Regions from separate parts of the Homo sapiens genome. Here region 1 is linked to region 2. A link means that fine-mapping ties the variant in region 2 to the expression of a gene that starts in the linked region. Tissue or cell type: whole blood. Region 2 holds a variant in brackets; the other region holds the start of a gene. All regions are shown on one strand. Distances are between the middles of the regions. Region 1 holds the start of TFDP2 (transcription factor Dp-2). Region 2 overlaps TFDP2 (transcription factor Dp-2).

The links. PIP is the estimated chance that this variant, and not a neighbour inherited with it, causes the effect. A credible set is the group of variants that fine-mapping cannot tell apart.
Region 1: it holds the start of TFDP2, and the variant in region 2 is the best candidate, but not a certain one, in a credible set for the expression of TFDP2 in whole blood (TOPMed, PIP 0.65).

What each region holds. Positions count from the first base shown.
Region 1 is chr3:142,147,703-142,150,613 of GRCh38, reverse strand. TFDP2 (transcription factor Dp-2) reads left to right here and starts at 1,070. Exons shown (of 13, transcript NM_001178139.2): 1 at 1,070-1,431. RefSeq lists silencers at 795-844, 955-1,164, 1,225-1,294, 1,525-1,574 and an enhancer at 925-1,425.
Region 2 is chr3:142,114,151-142,117,061 of GRCh38, reverse strand. All of the region lies in intron 1 of TFDP2 (transcription factor Dp-2), which reads left to right. Among named protein-coding and RNA genes, the nearest start is that of TFDP2, 34 kb to the left of the region's middle. The variant G/A (reference allele first, on the strand shown) is at 1,453.

The DNA.
Region 1 (2,911 bases), 34 kb before region 2:
GTCTCCCCATATCAAGAATAGTGTTTGGGGCCGGGCGTGGTGGCTCACGCCTGTAATCCCACCACTTTGGGAGGCCCAGGCGGGAGGATCTCTTGAGTCCAGGAGTTCCAAACCAGCCTGGGAAACATGGCGAAACAGCCGGGTGTGGTGGCGCGGGCCTGTAGTCCCAGCTACTCGGGAGGCTGTGGTGGTAGGATCACCTGAGACTGGGAAGTCAGGGCTCCAATGAGCCGTGATCCTGCCACCGCACTCCAGCCTCGGTGAGAGCAAGACCCCGTCTCAAAAACAAACAAAGTGGCATATAGAAGATCTATAAGATTTGACTGGAGTAAAATGAGAAAGATCTAATCGTTTTAATGCGCTGTTCACACGGGGTTTTTAACTTCGGCACGAACGAATGAACAAAATCTTTTCATATGGAACCAAGTGTACGGGTATTTGGGGTGTGTGCAGTTTCCGCGGGACAGAATGACCTGTCCTGGTTTGGGTATTAACTTGCCTTGATATTGAAGAACCTCCACATTCCCAGTGGTCTCTAACTCATTGTCTGAATAATTTCAAGGTGTCCCACAGTTGGCCCCACGCATAGCCTCAATCACGATCACTCGCCCCCCTGTCCCTTATTGATGCTCCCCCAGGGCGACCCCGCAAAGGCCTGGGGACCGAATGGAACTGCCCCAGTCCCCCTCCTTCCAAGAGAGCTGGGGTTTTCTGGCTTCGGGGTCAGTTGGAAAAGAGATTCCCACCCAAGTCGCAGGGTGGGAGTAGGGGGGATGAGATAGGAGTGATGAAGGAAGTGTGTCTAAAATTCTAGGCCTCAGGCCCGCAGCTGTCCCTGGAGGCGGCGGGGAAGCGGGGTGGTCGGGTCCTGCGGAGGGCTCCCAGGGAGGCCACAGGGGGAACCAAGGGGCGGTGGCTGAGTGCACGAGTCCCGCCCCTCCATCTGTTGGCCCCCTACTCTCAAAGGGAAGCCTGGGGGCGGGGTTTGTTTACTCCGTGCACGCACTGCCGGCCCGGCCAATCCGTGGGGAGCGGCGCCAGGCGTCGCACATTCTGAGGGCCAATCGGCGCGCACTGTGCTGCTCCGCCGCCAAAGCTCGCGCGGGGGAAGCGGGGCTGTAGCTGGGCAGGGAGAGGGCGGACGAAATCGGTAGCGATCTCGGCTGCGGCGCTGCCGCAGCTGCCCGGCCCGCGGGGCGCGCCCTGACCCTTCATCTTTGGGCAGGCTCGAGGGCGCGCGCACGGTTGGCGTTCTGGGGCCTCAAACTCCTGGGCCTTGACCGGGCAGGCCGCGTCTCCCCGGGTGTGAGTCCACCGGGACCCGGCCGCCGCCTAAGCGCGGGCGCCACAGAAGCGGCGGCGCCCGAAGACGCGCTCCTGGCTCGGCCCGACAGCCTCGCTTGGCCGCCAGTTCTTCTGCAGCCGAAGGCGGTAAGGTCTGGGGCGAGGGCGCGGGCCCGCGCGCGGAGGGCCTTTGGACCCGGCCGGGCGCGTTCCTGGGTAGGTTTCCCTCCCTGCGCACAGGGGCCCCCTTGTTCCCCCACGAGTCCCATCTGTTTAGACCTGGGTTCTCCAGGCCTGGCCGGGTAACCCGTGAGTGTCTGGGCCAGAGTCGAAAGCAGAGGAGGGTCACCCTCTTAGTGCATAGAGCAAATCGGGGGAGGTAACGTCCCTGAGTCACGCCTCGTGGAAGAGGGGAAGGGCTGCTTTCTACTTTCTCGTTCTCTTCAAAGAAGGATGGCTTCTAAATCTGGTTTTCCGATTTTTCCCTTCTCCTTTCATGACTCACAGGCCTCTGTGTCCACCAGGTGTTTTGTTTGTTTTTAAAGAGTTTCTAAGCTTTGTGTGCTTGGAAGAACCTCATATGCCCCATAAAGGAACTTTTCTCTGAAGTAGAGGATCGCTTTTTGGGCCCAGACTCCTTTGAGAAAATCTGGAAAGCCAAGGTCTGTCTTCACAAAGAAGTGTAAGGGTTTTCCTAGGATCTCGCTGAGAGACAGTACAACGAAGTGGATGAGCGCCCCAGTCTCTCTTACCAGCCTGTGCTATCTCCCATTGTGTGATCTCGGTTTCTTCATCTGTAAATTAGATGCATCCACCTATTCGGTGTGTTTCGGGGAGTGAATGGACTAATGTATGGAATGCAATCGTAAGAAAATCCTCCACGTATTAAATGCCTTGCATTAGTTAGGCACTTTTATTATTGACTGCCATGGATGCTGGTTTAGAAAAAGACCCTATATTATTTCCCTTTTAGTGTTGAGACAGTGAACGGGCTCATTCCTTTTCCATATTCACTGCTGAAGCTGCCTTTGAGCCCATGAATACTTTTATCTTTTCCTCATTCCATCTCAGAGGGCACAGACTCCCTCTCACTTATTTGCTTTCTTTCAGTAAGGCTCTCTTTTAGCTCAGCCTTCTCCTTCCCCTGTCTCCCCGAGATCTGAGTTTTGTGTCTTTTCATTTGACTTGCACAACCTACTTTTTTTTTTTTCTGGGCCATGTGTTTTCTCTTCATGGCTTGAATTTATCTTCACCTAATAAATAATTTACCTGTTTTTTTTTTCAGCTCGTGAATATATATTCATCTATTTTCTATATGGCATAATCATGTCCCTGTCTCTCTTTAAAAGTAGATATAAAAATAGTTTAATTGATCTATATTGCAGCTTCCTTTTCCATTTCATTGTTTAGCCTGTTATTTAGCTAAACTTTATCACTATCAGATTACTGTAATTAATCTTTAATGGCAGTGTCCATTCTCAGACAGCACCAGGAGAAAAATCAAATGCCTAGACCCCAGATTCTGTCACACTTGTGTACTGGCTCTGGATGTGTTTGTTATTTATTAGAACATCTTGTGCCTGTAACTAGTCTAGTCTAAGAGTAGACATGGTGTCTGTAGCGTTGT
Region 2 (2,911 bases):
TAATCCCAGCTACTTGGGAGGCTGAGGCAGGAGAATCGCTTGAGCTTGTGAGGCTAAGGTTGCAGTGAGCCAAGATCACACCATCGCACTCCAGCCTGGGCAACAGAACGAGACTCTGTCTCAAAAAAAAAATCCTTTTCCAGATGACTAATTTTACACCTGAAAAATCCAAGAGTCAACTGAACTTACAGTAAAATTACTTTAAGCAGTAAAAGAATTAAGTTGTGTAATGGAATATAAAATTAGTAAAAAGAAAAACGTAACTTATATGCATACAGCTAGGAAAATATAATGGAGAACCCCATAAGTTACAGGAACAACAGCAAAAAGGAAACAGAGAAAAAACTCAAAACCAAAAAATAAAATACCTAGGTGTAACTATAATAGTGTGCAAAACCCATTGTGTTACTTTCCTAGGACCACCATAACAAAATGCCACAAACTGGGTGGCTTAAAACAACAGAAACTTATTTCCTACAGTTCTGTATGCTGCAAGTCTGCAATCAATTTGTCAGCAGGGCCGTGCTCCCTGTAAAGCCTCTAGGAGAGGATCCTTTATTGCTTCTTCCAGTTTCTGGTAGCCCTGGGCATTCCTTGGCTGTGGCCACATAATTCCAATCTCTGCCTCTGTCTAGGAAACTGCCTTCTTCCCTCTGTCTGCATCTCTTGTTTCTTTTTTCCTCTTAAGAGAATACCAGTGGCTGGACTCTGGCTCACACCTGTGATCCCAGCACTTTGGAAGGCTGAGTTGGGAGGATCACTTGAGGACAGGAGTTCAAGACCAGCCTCGGCTACATAGTGAGACTCTATCTCTACCAAAAATTTTAAAAATTAGCCCAGTGTTAGGGTATATGCCTGTATACCCAGCTACTTGGGAGTTAAGGCGGGAGGATTGCTTGAGCCCAGGAGTTTGAAGTTGCAATGAGCTGTGATTGCACCACTGCATTCCAGCCTGGGTGACAGAGCAAGACCCTGTCTCAAGAAAAAAAAAAAAAAAGTTGCAAAATGAATACAGAGAAATCCCATTTACCCGTAGCCCAACTTCCCCCAAGTGGTAACATCTTATGTAATTGTAGTACATTGGCCAAATCAGGAAATTGACATTGGTACAATATAATTGACTGGACTACAGATCCTACTTGGATTTCACTAGTTTTTGCATGTGCCCATTTTTTGGTGTGTCTTTGTGTATAGTTCTGTGACATGTTATTAGATGTATAGATTCGTATAGCCACCACCACAATCAAGATACAAAACTGTTCTGTTACTGCAAGAAGGTAGCACTATTGTAACATTTAACAGCAATAGTAAATCTATCATTGTTAAATGAAAAAAACAACATCATAGTATGATACTATTGAACAAGACTAAAATTTAAAAAGACTAAAAACAACAAAAGTGTATTTCTCTACATGCAGGTACTTATATGAAAATGCATGGAATGGGCCGGGC[G/A]CGGTGGCTCACGCCTGTAATCCCAGTACTTTGGGAGGCCGAGGCCGGCGGATCACGAGGTCAGGAGATCGAGACCATCCTGGCTAACACGGTGAAACCCCGTCTCTACTAAAAATACAAAAAATTAGCCAGGTGCAGTCGTGGGCGCCTGTAGTCCCAGCTACTCAGGAGGCTGAGGCAGGAGAATGGCGTGAATCCGGGAGGTGGAGCTTGCAGTGAGCCGAGATCGCGCCACTGCACTCCAGCCTGAGCGAGAGAGCGGGACTCTGTCTCAGAAAAAAAAAAAAAAAAAAAGAAAATGCGTGGAATGAGCTCTGTGCAAGGATATTTACCAAACTGATAACAATGAAGTTTAGAAATGATATTTGAGGTGTTCAGATGCGGAGATTTTCTTTATCTGTATGGACTTTTTAATAACCAGAATGTTTTCATGTATCTATAATTTAAATGTTTTTAAAAGAATATATATAAGAACACAAATATAAATGTCAGTGAATTCTGTTAATGGTATTCATCTGCTAGTTAGAATTGTAGTGGAAGTGGAGGGGCAGGAATTAAGGAAGACTTGCTTTGTATTGTATTTTCTTCTGCACTGTTGAGTTTTTTTTTCTTATGAGCATATATAATTTTTTTATTGAAAGAATTTTTTTATGGAAGGCTTTATAGGACATCTTGAAAACTGGCAGTAACAGAATAATGTATATGACTTGCTTATGTACATTTTCCTATATATACCTTTACATTTAAATATACATCTATGCATATACATGTACCTGAAAGTGTCTGTACAAATATCATTAGGTTCTTATCTTTCAATAGTAAGATTTAGAGTAATTTTTATTTTCTTCTTTGTGCTCTTCTATAGCTTTGGATTATTTTGTAGTGAGCACATACATCATTCAACTTTCCTTTCCCTTTCCAAAGGTGTTTTTAAGAAGGTAGGAAAAAAAGAAAAAAAAAACCTGTATCCTGCTTGAAAATTGAGAAAAATGATGACAGCTTTTGCAGTTAACCTTTAGTTAGTATAAAATTTCACGATCTCCATCATATCCTGTGGAGTCTGATAGGGGGTTGTGATTGTTAGGGATTTTCAATATATGGTACATGAAAAAAATAAAGTGGATGAGGAGCGTATGCAAACAAGGCAATTGTTTATTTTTCTATAAGGCTTTTTTTAGTCATCTAAAACTATTTAATACTTTATATTCTTAAACATTTATACATACAGATAACACAAATATCCTATATTTTTTAAAACCTTAAATTACTTTAAAATGAAAACTGCTTAGGACATGTCTTTTTATGATATGATGGAACATGTATATAGTAACATTTATTTAAACTTCATTATACATTTTGCTTCTCTGTGACCTTGGGCAAGTTACTTAAGCTGACTCAATTTTCCCTTCTATAAAATGGAGATAACTATACCTTTTTTTTTTTTTGAGACGGATTCTCG